Linked DNA regions of Homo sapiens. Changing the gene in region 2 together with the main gene of any one other region gives a genetic interaction. Each region holds a gene or a part of one and is shown on either strand. Other genes may lie near its edges.

What was found.
Region 1: changes in DMPK (region 2) and CHD1 together harm fitness more than expected from each alone (negative genetic interaction), as found in Homo sapiens cells (one large-scale study listed by BioGRID).
Region 3: changes in DMPK (region 2) and NPEPPS together harm fitness more than expected from each alone (negative genetic interaction), as found in Homo sapiens cells (one large-scale study listed by BioGRID).
Region 4: changes in DMPK (region 2) and CSF3R together harm fitness more than expected from each alone (negative genetic interaction), as found in Homo sapiens cells (one large-scale study listed by BioGRID).

The regions. Positions count from the first base shown.
Region 1 is NC_000005.10:98,897,606-98,901,507, forward strand, and holds part of CHD1 (chromodomain-helicase-DNA-binding protein 1), read right to left. Parts: intron 3,731-3,902; coding exon 3,581-3,730; intron 3,478-3,580; coding exon 3,206-3,477; intron 2,101-3,205; coding exon 1,875-2,100; intron 1,160-1,874; coding exon 1,059-1,159; intron 830-1,058; coding exon 651-829; intron 1-650. UniProt on the Homo sapiens protein: ATP-dependent chromatin-remodeling factor which functions as substrate recognition component of the transcription regulatory histone acetylation (HAT) complex SAGA. Regulates polymerase II transcription.
Region 2 is NC_000019.10:45,775,133-45,780,400, reverse strand, and holds part of DMPK (myotonin-protein kinase), read left to right. Parts: exon of another isoform or gene 1-19; coding exon of another isoform or gene 20-78; exon of another isoform or gene 79-341; coding exon of another isoform or gene 342-531; coding exon 532-623; intron 624-781; exon of another isoform or gene 782-878; coding exon 879-962; intron 963-1,041; coding exon 1,042-1,137; exon of another isoform or gene 1,138-1,267; intron 1,268-1,759; coding exon 1,760-1,908; intron 1,909-2,180; coding exon 2,181-2,274; intron 2,275-2,527; coding exon 2,528-2,734; intron 2,735-2,810; coding exon 2,811-3,074; intron 3,075-5,268. UniProt on the Homo sapiens protein: Non-receptor serine/threonine protein kinase which is necessary for the maintenance of skeletal muscle structure and function.
Region 3 is NC_000017.11:47,618,108-47,621,343, forward strand, and holds part of NPEPPS (puromycin-sensitive aminopeptidase), read left to right. Parts: intron 1-242; coding exon 243-350; intron 351-901; coding exon 902-1,057; intron 1,058-1,170; coding exon of another isoform or gene 1,171-1,265; intron 1,266-1,629; coding exon 1,630-1,677; intron 1,678-3,236. UniProt on the Homo sapiens protein: Aminopeptidase with broad substrate specificity for several peptides. Involved in proteolytic events essential for cell growth and viability. May act as regulator of neuropeptide activity.
Region 4 is NC_000001.11:36,469,012-36,472,913, reverse strand, and holds part of CSF3R (granulocyte colony-stimulating factor receptor isoform a precursor), read left to right. Parts: intron 1-227; coding exon 228-397; intron 398-522; coding exon 523-676; intron 677-774; coding exon 775-848; intron 849-1,267; coding exon 1,268-1,481; intron 1,482-3,073; coding exon 3,074-3,262; intron 3,263-3,656; coding exon 3,657-3,758; intron 3,759-3,902. UniProt on the Homo sapiens protein: Receptor for granulocyte colony-stimulating factor (CSF3), essential for granulocytic maturation. Plays a crucial role in the proliferation, differentiation and survival of cells along the neutrophilic lineage.

The DNA.
Region 1 (3,902 bases), on a different chromosome or scaffold from region 2:
CGTTAAATTGTTCAAAACCATCACTCCAGCCTTAAGCTACAAACCATAAAACTGGCTTAGCTTACCGTTCAATTTCTGAATTCCAAGTTATCCCTATGAAGAATGTAATTCTTGTAATAAGGAAAGAAAGTCTAGTAGTCCATAGATCTCAACACATCACTAGTAACTCTGGGTAAGTTACAAGGATGCAGAAAGTATTGTGCAAGGTAGTTCTGGATACTTTCCTATATCACTCTCCTTTTTCTCTACCTTCTAAGAAAATATCCACTATCTTTAAAATTGAGCATATCTCTAGTTTCCAAGGGTTTTTTTCTGTTTATTCTCCCAACCCTTCCTGACAATCACCATAACCAACTCATCTTTCTGACATAGTGATGCTCAACAAGATAAAAGACAACACTTAAGAAGATACATTGACGAAAACATCATTTACAATTTTTTTAAGAGAAAGTTTGAAATAAAAAATTATAAAACTAAAACTAAAAAACACACAGCAATTGCAGAAGTTCACTTCCTGTAAGACCTATTAACCAAGAAATATTCTCCCTTAGTCTATCTGAAATCAGGATCCAACTCTTGTATTTAGGCTTGTAAATATTTATAATGTATAAATATATTTTTAATAATTTAAAATGTTAGACAATACTCACTTTGCAATCTTTAAAAGGAGTGGTTTTTGATTGGTTCCTGCTAAAATACTCATCAATGCATGCTTGAAACTTTTTGGAAATGAGAGCTCCATCTTCCCAGCTGCACTCTGAGTATGGAAGGCCCTGCCATTTGCAGTAATAATCAGGATAACCAGCTGCTGACTTTTGATTGGAATGAGCTGTGAGAGAATCAGGCATTTACTTATTTATTTATTTTTTTTTACATTTAATCATCAGATACATAATTCTTAGTAAAGGCTACACAAGTAAAATTTAGCTATCTAGTTTACAATACTGTTTTAGTAAGAGCAAGCTACTGTGTTTGATATGTAAGTGGCAAACTTATGACTTTTTTCAGATTATTTCAAGCATAAAAAGAAAGTTTAACTAGAATCATTTATCACTAACCAATTATACGTTCCACTATTTGATACTGTTTATGTAGATCATCTGTAAGTTCTTGCTGGCAATTATAATATTCCACATCTTCTGGAGAGGCATTTTTCAACCTGAAAAATTATTAATCCAGGAATAGACTTAAAAATCTCCCATAAATAACCTTTCACTCCCCCATCCCCAACACTATTTGTAGCACAAAATCTCCCATTTTGCCACTGTGTGGGCCAAGTTTGAGTAATAAAGAAACTCAAACAGGAATAAAGCATCATTAATTTTTAACTAAAAATTTGTAATTTATAATGTATGAGACACACTCTATGTGACTGTTACCAAGGATAGGTTTAGATAGGTATACCTCTAGGAGTTTTACCTTGAGATGGAATAAAATCATCCCTCACTACCTGCAGGGGATTGGTTGAGGATCCTCTACAGATACCAGAATCTGAGGATGCTCAAGTCCCTTATATGAAATGACATGGTACCTAAAATATAACCCACACACATCCTCCCCCATACTTTAAATCATCTCTAGATGTTCTTATAATACCCAATTTTACATTTACAACGTAAATGCAGTGCAAATAGTTGTTACATGGTATTGTTTTTAATTTGTGTTATTGTTGTTTTTTTTCCCTCCGAATACTTTCAATCCATGGTTGGTTGAAACCAAGGATAGAGAAGCTGTGGACAAAGACAGCCAACTGTATTATAAAGTCTATAGCTATTTTAGGCTATCATTTAATGTTACTATGTATTCTTTATTAACATAAAGGTTTAGTAATCTTTGAACTATTAAAAGAAGTATATGATATACAGCATACTTACCATCTTTTTGTTTCCTGATCTTTTTTCTTATAATTATCCAATTTTTTCATTCCTCTAACATTCTGCTGCTTGAGGGTTTCTTCTGTCTCCCAAGTGTTGTGGATATGGGACCATCCTTTCCATTTAATTAAATACTGAATCTCTCCTGGTTCTTTGTTTTTTTCAAAGCCTGCATTTGGGTCACCATCTGCTTCAACTGCATAGATGGTTGTAGTAGCACCAGTAGCTGAAAACAAAAGCACAAGATCCTTCCATGTAATTAATTCTGTTGTAGGATTATATTTCAACTCAAAATTTCAATAATATGAGTACAAAAATATATACTCTTTTAAATAAAGTATTGGGGGTATAGAAACTTATGGGAAATTCTATTGCTCATAAATAAAACTGAGAATTTCAGAATTATCTAATATAATCCCCTCCTTTTTCGAATTAGAAAAAATAAAAAGACAGAGATCCACCTGAGATCCCACAGCATTATTCTATAATTATCCACAATATATGAAACGTGGTCAGCTGGAGGCCCAGCACGGTGGCTCACGCCTGTAATCCCAGCAATTTGGGAGGCCGAGGCGGGCGGATCACGAGGTCAGGAGATCAAGACCATCCTGGCTAACACGGTGAAACCCCATCTCTGCTAAAAATACAAAAAATCAGCCAGGTGTCCTGGCAGGCACCTGTAGTCCCAGCTACTCGGGAGGCTGAGGCAGGAGAATGGCGTGAACCTGGGAGGCGGAGCTTGCAGTGAGCTGAGACCGTGCCACTGCACTCCAGCCTGGACAACAGAACGAGATTCTGTCACAAAAAAAAAAAAAAAAGAAAAAAGAAATGTGGTCAGGTGGTTATTAAGAAGGTACTCAGGCTAAGCAAAGTAGCTTTTATAAAACATAAGTAAAACAACAACAACAAAAAATCCACCCTCTTAGCTTTCAACACTGTAGAAAAATCTTAAATACTTTACCTTTTTTTTTTTTTTTTGAGATGGAGTTTCGCTCTGTCACCCAGGCTGGAGTGCAGTCGTGCAATCTCAGCTCACTGCAACCTCAGCCTCGTGGGTTCAAGCAATTCCCTTGCCTCGGCTTCCCAAGTAGCTGGGACTACAGGTGCGCACCACCTCACCTAGCTAATCTTTTCTATTTTTAGTAGAGATGGGGTTTTGCCACGTTGGCCAGGCTGGTCTAGAACTCCTGACCTCAGGTCTAGAACTCCTGATCCATCGGCCTCGGCCCCCCAAAGTACTGGGATTACAGGGGCGACCCACTGTGCCCAGCCCTCTACTCCTGTAAATATTATTTAAATAACCAAACAATAAATGGTTTTTTAAAAACTACCTCCTTTTCTCCCAATCCGACAATCCATAAATCTTTCTATGGTTTCAAATTCCTCTTCCTCAGGTTGAGGAACATCCTCTCCACAGACTTCCAGTAGGTCATCAGAATCTGTTTTCATTTCTTCATCCTCCTTATAGCTAACATTAACAGTTGCTTGGCGACGAGAACTTCTTTTATCATTATCATAATCTTCTTCATCATCATCCTCCTCAGATGAATCAATCTGTCTCTTTTTTTGTCCAAGAATCTTCTTTCCATTTTTTGACTTAGATCTAGGAAAGTGCAAAGAGAAAAAAAAACAAGATTTGAGAAACTATATACAAAAAGAACAAATACTTTCCACAATCAATTTTCAGCACCAAACTGAGACCATACCTATTTTGAGGTTTTCTGCTTTTGACTTTGTTTTTTGGCTCATAATCAGATTCTGTTTCATCACAACTGCTTTTCTCTCTCTCTTCTTCAGATTCTGAATCTGAACCAGACTGAGATGGAGATCCTGACCCAGACATTTGCCAATCTTCACTGCAGACAAAATTTATAAAGTATTTTTATTTGTACTTATATGGCAAGTTTTATCCCTAATACAAAGATGATCAAATCAACCAAACTATATTCGCTATCAAAAATACTGTTGCTTTTACTCATGCTAAAAATGAAATATTTATAAAACAAAAACACTCTGGAAAATATTCTT
Region 2 (5,268 bases):
GTCCTGTTCCTTCCCCCAGCCCCAAATCCAGGGTTTTCCAAAGTGTGGTTCAAGAACCACCTGCATCTGAATCTAGAGGTACTGGATACAACCCCACGTCTGGGCCGTTACCCAGGACATTCTACATGAGAACGTGGGGGTGGGGCCCTGGCTGCACCTGAACTGTCACCTGGAGTCAGGGTGGAAGGTGGAAGAACTGGGTCTTATTTCCTTCTCCCCTTGTTCTTTAGGGTCTGTCCTTCTGCAGACTCCGTTACCCCACCCTAACCATCCTGCACACCCTTGGAGCCCTCTGGGCCAATGCCCTGTCCCGCAAAGGGCTTCTCAGGCATCTCACCTCTATGGGAGGGCATTTTTGGCCCCCAGAACCTTACACGGTGTTTATGTGGGGAAGCCCCTGGGAAGCAGACAGTCCTAGGGTGAAGCTGAGAGGCAGAGAGAAGGGGAGACAGACAGAGGGTGGGGCTTTCCCCCTTGTCTCCAGTGCCCTTTCTGGTGACCCTCGGTTCTTTTCCCCCACCACCCCCCCAGCGGAGCCCATCGTGGTGAGGCTTAAGGAGGTCCGACTGCAGAGGGACGACTTCGAGATTCTGAAGGTGATCGGACGCGGGGCGTTCAGCGAGGTAAGCCGAACCGGGCGGGAGCCTGACTTGACTCGTGGTGGGCGGGGCATAGGGGTTGGGGCGGGGCCTTAGAAATTGATGAATGACCGAGCCTTAGAACCTAGGGCTGGGCTGGAGGCGGGGCTTGGGACCAATGGGCGTGGTGTGGCAGGTGGGGCGGGGCCACGGCTGGGTGCAGAAGCGGGTGGAGTTGGGTCTGGGCGAGCCCTTTTGTTTTCCCGCCGTCTCCACTCTGTCTCACTATCTCGACCTCAGGTAGCGGTAGTGAAGATGAAGCAGACGGGCCAGGTGTATGCCATGAAGATCATGAACAAGTGGGACATGCTGAAGAGGGGCGAGGTGAGGGGCTGGGCGGACGTGGGGGGCTTTGAGGATCCGCGCCCCGTCTCCGGCTGCAGCTCCTCCGGGTGCCCTGCAGGTGTCGTGCTTCCGTGAGGAGAGGGACGTGTTGGTGAATGGGGACCGGCGGTGGATCACGCAGCTGCACTTCGCCTTCCAGGATGAGAACTACCTGGTGAGCTCCGGGCCGGGGTGACTAGGAAGAGGGACAAGAGCCCGTGCTGTCACTGGACGAGGAGGTGGGGAGAGGAAGCTCTAGGATTGGGGGTGCTGCCCGGAAACGTCTGTGGGAAAGTCTGTGTGCGGTAAGAGGGTGTGTCAGGTGGATGAGGGGCCTTCCCTATCTGAGACGGGGATGGTGTCCTTCACTGCCCGTTTCTGGGGTGATCTGGGGGACTCTTATAAAGATGTCTCTGTTGCGGGGGGTCTCTTACCTGGAATGGGATAGGTCTTCAGGAATTCTAACGGGGCCACTGCCTAGGGAAGGAGTGTCTGGGACCTATTCTCTGGGTGTTGGGTGGCCTCTGGGTTCTCTTTCCCAGAACATCTCAGGGGGAGTGAATCTGCCCAGTGACATCCCAGGAAAGTTTTTTTGTTTGTGTTTTTTTTTGAGGGGCGGGGGCGGGGGCCGCAGGTGGTCTCTGATTTGGCCCGGCAGATCTCTATGGTTATCTCTGGGCTGGGGCTGCAGGTCTCTGCCCAAGGATGGGGTGTCTCTGGGAGGGGTTGTCCCAGCCATCCGTGATGGATCAGGGCCTCAGGGGACTACCAACCACCCATGACGAACCCCTTCTCAGTACCTGGTCATGGAGTATTACGTGGGCGGGGACCTGCTGACACTGCTGAGCAAGTTTGGGGAGCGGATTCCGGCCGAGATGGCGCGCTTCTACCTGGCGGAGATTGTCATGGCCATAGACTCGGTGCACCGGCTTGGCTACGTGCACAGGTGGGTGCAGCATGGCCGAGGGGATAGCAAGCTTGTTCCCTGGCCGGGTTCTTGGAAGGTCAGAGCCCAGAGAGGCCAGGGCCTGGAGAGGGACCTTCTTGGTTGGGGCCCACCGGGGGGTGCCTGGGAGTAGGGGTCAGAACTGTAGAAGCCCTACAGGGGCGGAACCCGAGGAAGTGGGGTCCCAGGTGGCACTGCCCGGAGGGGCGGAGCCTGGTGGGACCACAGAAGGGAGGTTCATTTATCCCACCCTTCTCTTTTCCTCCGTGCAGGGACATCAAACCCGACAACATCCTGCTGGACCGCTGTGGCCACATCCGCCTGGCCGACTTCGGCTCTTGCCTCAAGCTGCGGGCAGATGGAACGGTGAGCCAGTGCCCTGGCCACAGAGCAACTGGGGCTGCTGATGAGGGATGGAAGGCACAGAGTGTGGGAGCGGGACTGGATTTGGAGGGGAAAAGAGGTGGTGTGACCCAGGCTTAAGTGTGCATCTGTGTGGCGGAGTATTAGACCAGGCAGAGGGAGGGGCTAAGCATTTGGGGAGTGGTTGGAAGGAGGGCCCAGAGCTGGTGGGCCCAGAGGGGTGGGCCCAAGCCTCGCTCTGCTCCTTTTGGTCCAGGTGCGGTCGCTGGTGGCTGTGGGCACCCCAGACTACCTGTCCCCCGAGATCCTGCAGGCTGTGGGCGGTGGGCCTGGGACAGGCAGCTACGGGCCCGAGTGTGACTGGTGGGCGCTGGGTGTATTCGCCTATGAAATGTTCTATGGGCAGACGCCCTTCTACGCGGATTCCACGGCGGAGACCTATGGCAAGATCGTCCACTACAAGGTGAGCACGGCCGCAGGGAGACCTGGCCTCTCCCGGTAGGCGCTCCCAGGCTATCGCCTCCTCTCCCTCTGAGCAGGAGCACCTCTCTCTGCCGCTGGTGGACGAAGGGGTCCCTGAGGAGGCTCGAGACTTCATTCAGCGGTTGCTGTGTCCCCCGGAGACACGGCTGGGCCGGGGTGGAGCAGGCGACTTCCGGACACATCCCTTCTTCTTTGGCCTCGACTGGGATGGTCTCCGGGACAGCGTGCCCCCCTTTACACCGGATTTCGAAGGTGCCACCGACACATGCAACTTCGACTTGGTGGAGGACGGGCTCACTGCCATGGTGAGCGGGGGCGGGGTAGGTACCTGTGGCCCCTGCTCGGCTGCGGGAACCTCCCCATGCTCCCTCCATAAAGTTGGAGTAAGGACAGTGCCTACCTTCTGGGGTCCTGAATCACTCATTCCCCAGAGCACCTGCTCTGTGCCCATCTACTACTGAGGACCCAGCAGTGACCTAGACTTACAGTCCAGTGGGGGAACACAGAGCAGTCTTCAGACAGTAAGGCCCCAGAGTGATCAGGGCTGAGACAATGGAGTGCAGGGGGTGGGGGACTCCTGACTCAGCAAGGAAGGTCCTGGAGGGCTTTCTGGAGTGGGGAGCTATCTGAGCTGAGACTTGGAGGGATGAGAAGCAGGAGAGGACTCCTCCTCCCTTAGGCCGTCTCTCTTCACCGTGTAACAAGCTGTCATGGCATGCTTGCTCGGCTCTGGGTGCCCTTTTGCTGAACAATACTGGGGATCCAGCACGGACCAGATGAGCTCTGGTCCCTGCCCTCATCCAGTTGCAGTCTAGAGAATTAGAGAATTATGGAGAGTGTGGCAGGTGCCCTGAAGGGAAGCAACAGGATACAAGAAAAAATGATGGGGCCAGGCACGGTGGCTCACGCCTGTAACCCCAGCAATTTGGCAGGCCGAAGTGGGTGGATTGCTTGAGCCCAGGAGTTCGAGACCAGCCTGGGCAATGTGGTGAGACCCCCGTCTCTACAAAAATGTTTTAAAAATTGGTTGGGCGTGGTGGCGCATGCCTGTATACTCAGCTACTAGGGTGGCCGACGTGGGCTTGAGCCCAGGAGGTCAAGGCTGCAGTGAGCTGTGATTGTGCCACTGCACTCCAGCCTGGGCAACGGAGAGAGACTCTGTCTCAAAAATAAGATAAACTGAAATTAAAAAATAGGCTGGGCTGGCCGGGCGTGGTGGCTCACGCCTGTAATCTCAGCACTTTGGGAGGCCGAGGCGGGTGGATCACGAGGTCAGGAGATCGAGACCATCTTGGCTAACACGGTGAAACCCCATCTCTCCTAAAAATACAAAAAATTAGCCAGGCGTGGTGGCGGGCGCCTGTAGTCCCAGCTACTCAGGAGGCTGAGGCAGGAGAATGGCGTGAACCCGGGAGGCAGAGTTTGCAGTGAGCCGAGATCGTGCCACTGCACTCCAGCCTGGGCGACAGAGCGAGACTCTGTCTCAGAAAAAAAAAAAAAAAAAAAAAAAAATAGGCTGGACCGCGGCCGGGCGCTGTGGCTCATGCCTGTAATCCCAGCACTTTGGGAGTCCAAGGCCGGTGGGTCATGAGATCAGGAGTTTTGAGACTAGGCTGGCCAACACGGTGAAACCCCGTCTCTACTAAAAATACAAGAAAATTAGCTGGGTGTGGTCTCGGGTGCCTGTAATTCCAGTTACTGGGGAAGCTGAGGCAGGAGAATTGCTTGAACCTGGGAGGCAGAGTTTGCAGTGAGCCAAGATCATGCCACTACACTCCAGTCTGGGTGACAGAGTGAGACTCTGTCTCAAAAAAAAAAAAAAAAAAAAGGGTTGGGCAAGGTGGTTCACGCCTGTAATCCCAGAACTTTGGGAGGCTGAGGCAGGCAGATCACTGGAAGTCAGGAGTTCAAGACCAGCCTGGCCAACATGGTGAAACCCTGTGTCTACTAAAAATACAAAATTTAGCCAGGCTTGGTGGCGTATGCCTGTAATGCCAGCTACTCAGGAGGCTGAGGCAGGAGAATCGCTTGATTGAACCTGGGAGGCAGAGTTTGCAGTGGGCTGGGGTTGTGCCACTGCACTCTAGGCTGGGAGACAGCAAGACTCCATCTAAAAAAAAAAAACAGAACTGGGCTGGGCACAGTGGCTTATATTTGTAATCCCAGCACTTTGGGAGGCTGAGGTTGGAGGACTGCTTGAGCCCAGAGTTTGGGACTACAACAGCTGAGGTAGGCGGATCACTTGAGGTCAGAAGATGGAGACCAGCCTGGCCAGCGTGGCGAAACCCCGTCTCTACCAAAAATATAAAAAATTAGCCAGGCGTGGTAGAGGGCGCCTGTAATCTCAGCTACTCAGGACGCTGAGGCAGGAGAATCGCCTGAACCTGGGAGGCGGAGGTTGCAGTGAGCTGAGATTGCACCACTGCACTCCAGCCTGGGTAACAGAGCGAGACTCCGTATCAAAGAAAAAGAAAAAAGAAAAAATGCTGGAGGGGCCACTTTAGATAAGCCCTG
Region 3 (3,236 bases), on a different chromosome or scaffold from region 2:
TGACCTCAGGTGATCCACCCGCCTCGGCCTCCCAAAGTGCTGGGATTACAGGTGTGAACCACCGCACCTGGCCCAAAGCATCTTGAAAAGTATTCTCTTTCTTTAATATAATGCCCTGCCATTCTTACCTAGTGAGAATATAGAACCTAAGTTTTACCTTACTGGGGAAGAAGCTCATATAATCATATGCAGAACATCCAAGGGAGAGTTAACTATTCCTATCTTTATCTTTTTTCCTGTAGCTTCATAAACAAGCAGATATGCAAGAAGAGAAAAACCGAATCGAAAGAGTCCTTGGCGCTACTCTTTTGCCTGACCTGATTCAAAAAGTCCTCACGTTTGCACTTTCAGTAAGTTACGGTGAAAACTGCATTTAGAAGTGAATCGTTACCCATCTCTGAGAAGTGTCTCTGATTCAGCTCTGATCCTCTTGAGCTGCCTTAACCCTAACTAAAGCTTCCTTTTCCAGAGTAACTGGCTTGAGTTTTTGTTACTGACTTCTGTTTTTCTCCCACTAGTGGCGAGAATCAGAATAGTTGGGAGAGTAAACAAATTGTCTCTCCAGAATGGAAACTATGAGGACAGGGACTCTTGAAAACTGGGAAACTGGCTTATGCCTTTGCTTACTTTGTGTCTCTTCCTTTCTTAAACCTATAGGCTCCTAAGCAAGTATCTGTTGAGCAGTCTGTCTGTCTGAACCTGTCTCAGTACCTCATTCTCATTTTGGTTATCTTTAGCTTAAACATTATCTTCTTTGCTGAGAACTTCTGGTTCCAGTTATTCCTAAAACAAGGAATAAGTGTCTTCAGTGTGATTACTTCAGTGTCACAGTATGGTGCACTTTCTGGTACCAGAATATGTTTTTGATACACTAGACTTTTAGCTCTCTTTCTTTTTTTAGGAAGAGGTACGTCCACAGGACACTGTATCGGTAATTGGTGGAGTAGCTGGAGGCAGCAAGCATGGTAGGAAAGCTGCTTGGAAATTCATAAAGGACAACTGGGAAGAACTTTATAACCGATACCAGGGAGGATTCTTAATATCCAGACTAATAAAGGTATGTGAAAAACTTTGAGTAGCTTGCTAATCATGGATATTATTTAGTGACATCCATGATTCACTACACCCATACATTGTGGTCTTTGCTCTTTAAATGTTTCCTGTGGCCAGGTGCAGTGGCTCACGCCTGTAATACCAGCACTTTGGGACGCCGAGGTGGGCAGATCACCTGAGGTCGGGAGTTCGAGACTATCCTGGCCAACATGGTGAAATCCTGTCCCTACTAAAAATACAAAAATTAGCTGAGCGTGGTGGTGTGTGCCTGTAATCCCAGCTACTTGGGAGGCTGAGGCAGGAGAATCGCTTGAACCTGGGAGGCAGAGGTTGTGGTGAGCCGAGATGAGGTCATTGCACTCCAGCCTGGGCAACAAGTGTGAAACTCCGTCTCAAAAAAAAAAAAGTTTCCTTAAATAGTTACTGGCTTTATTTAAGGACTTCTCCATCTCCCATCACACATCCTTTATAACAGACTGAAGTTGGCAGAGAACAGAATGATTTATTTTTAGGGTAAATGGAAGTTTGTTCTCAGCCTCTTGGTTTCACTTACTGTTTAAAACCATTGTTTTGCAGCTATCAGTTGAGGGATTTGCAGTTGATAAAATGGCTGGAGAGGTTAAGGTAAGGAAAATACTGTTTACTCTTCACTTTTCAGTCTAGTAAGTAAAAACAATAACCTGGTTGTAATTATAGTGTTGGGATAATGTACTGTAGCATCTCTGTGTTTTTGTTTAGAGAAAGACATCATGCAGGGCTGTATAGGCCATATTAAGAATTTCCTAAAAATGGCCAGGCATGGTAGCTCACATCTGTAATCTCAGCACTTTGGGAGGCCGAGGTGGGTGGATCACCTGAGGTCAGGACTTCAAGACCAGCCCGGGCAACATGGTGAAACCCCAAATTAGCTGGACATGGTGGTGCACGCCTCTAATCCCAGCTACTCGGGAGGCTGAGGCAGGAGAATTGCTTGAGCCCGGGAGGTGGAGGTTGCAGTGAGCTGAGATCGTGCCATTGCACTCCAGCCTGGGTGACAGAGCGAGACTCCTGTCTCAAAAAAAAAAAAAAAAAAAAAAGTCCTAAAAATGGAAAGCCTTCGAATGGTTTATAAACAAGGCAGTGCCTTGATCTGATTTGTGTTATAAAAATTTCAGTCTGGCTGCAATGTGGATAATAGTTTGGAATGGGGAAGAGAAGATGTTGGGAAGCTAACTCTCCTAGCAAGAATGATAGAATAGCTTACAGTAGGGTAGTGGCAGTAGTGGAGGAGATGGAATAATGGAGATTCAGGGGCTTGAATTTGTTAACCATTTAGTTCAACAATATTTATTGATTGGCTTCTCTGTTGTGAGCATATCTGGGAGAGGAAGAAAAACAAGCCAGGATAATCCCCAGGTTTCTGGTGTATAAATGTTGGTACTACTCTGCGATGGAATGGAAAAAGACTTGAGGCCCTGAGAACTGAACCATGATTAGGAGCCTTGGAACAGTAGCAATTGTCATCTGTGTAAATAAGGTTATTGATTTCTAAAAGGTCTATGTTTAATCAGATGGATTAGTCATTCTGTCTTTCACACCTGTGGTGACTAATTCAAAGGAAAAGCCCTATCATTTTGCCAGCTGGTGTTTAAGAGTTGCTTTGTTTTCTGTGAAACCAGGTGTACTGCATTAGAAAAGTTTATTCAACTTTTAATCATTAAGCATTGTGATAAATTGTAAACTTAGAAATTGTTTGGTTTACTGTATTAAAAATGTTGGATTCCTGTAATTCCAGCATTTTGGGAGGCTGAGGTGGGAGGATTGCTTGAGTTCAAGAGTTCAAGACCAGTCTGGGCAACATGGTAGGACCCCATCTCTACAAAAAGGAAAAAACAATTTGGCCTGGGAGTGCACGCTTGTGGTCCCAGCTACCCAGGAAGTTAAGGTGGGAGGTTTACTTGAGCCCAGAAGGTTGAGGCTGTGATGAGCCATGATCGTTTCATTGCACTCTAGCCTGGGCAACAGAGTGAGACCCTGTCTCAAAAAAAAAAAAAAAAAAAAGACCATGGGGTGTTAAATTATTAGGGCATAGCAGCAATTTAAACTTCTTTGTATTATCATCCCTTACAAATTAATCTTTATTTGAAGCAGCCAAAATGTGTTGAATCCTTAAGTACTCTGTGCTAGGTATTTTGTCAAATGTT
Region 4 (3,902 bases), on a different chromosome or scaffold from region 2:
GGAGGGAAAACATTTCAAGCAGAAGTAACAACCAGTGCAAAGGCCCTGGGGCAAGAGCGGAAACAGAGACCTAGAGAGAAACAAAGACACATAGAGATCGAACCACAGAAACGTGTCATTGGCAACGTGGACAGATGGTGAACCACAGACAGGGAGACAAGAGGGAGCTAAGGCAGAGCCCTCTAGGGTGGGATAGGGAGACCTTCTGACAGCCCCACTCCTTGCAGTGAAACTGGAGCCCCCCATGCTGCGGACCATGGACCCCAGCCCTGAAGCGGCCCCTCCCCAGGCAGGCTGCCTACAGCTGTGCTGGGAGCCATGGCAGCCAGGCCTGCACATAAATCAGAAGTGTGAGCTGCGCCACAAGCCGCAGCGTGGAGAAGCCAGCTGGGCACTGGTGAGGCAGAGGGCAACCTGGAGAGCCTGAGGTGGTGGGGGCAGGGGGCAGGGTAAGTCGGGCTCGAGCTGGCCCTAGAATGGCCCAGCGATCCAAGGCTCAGAGTCCTGTCCACCCCTCACCAGGTGGGCCCCCTCCCCTTGGAGGCCCTTCAGTATGAGCTCTGCGGGCTCCTCCCAGCCACGGCCTACACCCTGCAGATACGCTGCATCCGCTGGCCCCTGCCTGGCCACTGGAGCGACTGGAGCCCCAGCCTGGAGCTGAGAACTACCGAACGGGGTAAGGAGGTGATGAGAGGCTGGGAGCAGCCAACAGTATCCAGTCCAGGCCCCAGGCCCCTCCCCAACTGGCACCCCCTCTTCTTGTTCCATCCACAGCCCCCACTGTCAGACTGGACACATGGTGGCGGCAGAGGCAGCTGGACCCCAGGACAGTGCAGCTGTTCTGGAAGGTGACTCCCTCTGAAGGCCATCCCTCCACCTCGACACCTCCCGCAGTCCAAACAGATCCCTACAAACCGGGGCTTAGGACTCCAACAGGTCTGGGAGGCGTGGACGCATTTATATGTGATTTGCATGCACTTTGCATGTGCCTAGGGAGCTGAGTTAGCTTTTGGACAGACTGTAACGCACGTCACAGTGTGGTTCAGTGAATAGTTAAGAGCCTGCTGTGTCCACCAACTTGTTTCTTCCTGCCCTCCTTCCTAGAACCTAGCACAAGGGAACAGAGGGAAAAGGGGAGGGGGGTGAGAAGCCTGGACCCCAGCCTGGGGAGGCTCCGTTTGTATGATCCATCCACCCCACCTAGAGGCTCTCCTTGACTCAAGATGAGCTGCACATCCCCTTCTCTTTTTCCTCCTGTGCCCCACAGCCAGTGCCCCTGGAGGAAGACAGCGGACGGATCCAAGGTTATGTGGTTTCTTGGAGACCCTCAGGCCAGGCTGGGGCCATCCTGCCCCTCTGCAACACCACAGAGCTCAGCTGCACCTTCCACCTGCCTTCAGAAGCCCAGGAGGTGGCCCTTGTGGCCTATAACTCAGCCGGGACCTCTCGTCCCACTCCGGTGGTCTTCTCAGAAAGCAGAGGTAAAGGGGGCTGGCAGCCAGAAGAGCACAGAGGTCAAGCGCATCAATTCAAAGGCTAGACTGCCTGGGTTAAATCTAGTCCTATTGGCCGGGCGCAGTGGCTCACGCCTGTAATCCCAGCACTTTGGGAGGCCGAGGTGGGCAGATCATCCGAGGTCAGGAGTTCAAGACCAGCCTGGCCTACATGGTGAAACCCCTGTCTCTACTAAAAATACAAAAATTAGCCAGGCATAGTGGCGGGCACCTGTAATCCCAGCTACTCCGGAGGCTGAGGCAGGAGAATTGCTTGAACCTGGGAGGCAGAGGTTGCAGCAAGCTGAGATCACGCCATTACACTCTAGCCTGGGCAACAGAGGGAGACTCCATCTCAAAAAAACAAAAAAAAACAAAAAACGAGTCCTATCACTTGCTAACAGTGTGACCTGAGTAAGTTACCTCCCATCCCCGGCCTCTGTTTACACATCCAGCAGATGGGGATGATAACAGCACCTACTGAGCGGTGCCATGGGGTGTACATGAGTTAAGACAAGTGCCTGGCACAAAGTAACTGCTCTGCATGTGTCTGCTGTTGTTATTATCATTAGCCAGACCAGGTTAAGCTCTCTCTCTCACACACACACACACTCACAGCCCATTCTGCCAAGAAAGCCAAGAGAGAAAGCCCCAGGCTTTTCCACTTGGAACCTGGTCTATGAGTTCATTGCTCATTCTCAGGAAATCAGCTGCCACCACCCACTGCTTTCCCTAAACATTGGTCCTCGCAAGGTGGGACTAATAATCACAATAACAATAATCATAGCTAATATTCCCACTTACTAGCTGTGTGATCTTAGACAAGTTTCTTAACCTCTCTGTGTCTCTCAGTTTTCTCATTAGTAAAATGGGGAAAAGAGTAGTACTTCCTGGGTATGACTATTAGAGGACTCAGTGAATTAAAATGTATCAAGGAGTCCAGTATGGTGGCTCACGCCTGTAATCCCAGCACTTTGGGAGGCTGAGGCGGGCGGATCATCTGAGGTCAGGAGGTCAAGACCAGCCTGGCCAACATAGTGAAACCCCATCTCTACTACAAATACAAAAATTAGCCGGGCATGGTGGCGGTTGCCTGTAATCCCAGCTAGTCGGGAGGCTGCGGCAGGAGAATCACTTGAGCCTGGGAGGTGGAGGTTGCAATGAGCCGAGATGGCGCCACTGCACTCCAGCCTGGGCGACAGAGCAAGTCTCTGCATAAAAAATAAAATAAAGTAAGGTAAAGTAAAGTAAAATAAAATAAAATATATCAAGGACTACGCCTGACACATACCAAGAACAATAGAGTGTTAGCTGTTATCACTAACAAGAACTACTCCATGCCAGGCGCTATGCCAGGCTTGTTTCGTGCATCAAGTCATTTAATCTGCACTAAGACCCTATGAGTTAGGAACTTTTATCATCATTTCTACTTTACAGATGAGGAAACTGAGGCTAAGATGTTGACCTACCAAAGGTCACCCAGCCTGTAAATAGCAAAGCCAGGATTTGAACCCAGGCTTCTGGCTCAAGGGCCTGCATTCTTTTCACCTTCATTCCACCATTTCCCACCCTGTCTCCAGGCCCAGCTCTGACCAGACTCCATGCCATGGCCCGAGACCCTCACAGCCTCTGGGTAGGCTGGGAGCCCCCCAATCCATGGCCTCAGGGCTATGTGATTGAGTGGGGCCTGGGCCCCCCCAGCGCGAGCAATAGCAACAAGACCTGGAGGATGGAACAGAATGGGAGAGCCACGGGGTTTCTGCTGAAGGGTGAGGCTGGCCTGGAAAGTTGGGCAGGGCCAGGGACAAAGGGAGGCAGTGCTTATCTGACAATAGGCATGGGACAACCTGAACTGCCCAAGAGACATGGATTCTCCAGCCTTTCTTGATCCTTCGTTGTTCTCATTTCATATCCTCATAATCAGGAAGTTCTTCCTACAGTCTAACCTGATCCTTTTTCTATAGCCCTGACTCTGCCACCCTTCTAGCTCTCTCTTCCACTTTTCTTCCCTAATTCTCATCAAATGATCTAAAGAAGATATTGTGGAGGTTAACCCTGAATCATGAGGCCAGGTTAGCCCTCACTAGAGGTCTGAGGCTAGCTCCTGATCATTAGCACAGGTTAGGCCCTAACAGAAGTGCCTACCCCATTTTCTCTCTACAGAGAACATCAGGCCCTTTCAGCTCTATGAGATCATCGTGACTCCCTTGTACCAGGACACCATGGGACCCTCCCAGCATGTCTATGCCTACTCTCAAGAAATGGGTTTGTCAACTATCAGGCCCCTTTCCAGAATCCTCTCCTCTCTCTCCCAAGGCTCTGCCTGGTCCCCAGCAATCAGAAGTATAGGGAACATTGCCTTCCTACCATACTTCCAGCCCTGGAGAGGATCTCTCCCAATCCCCTGGC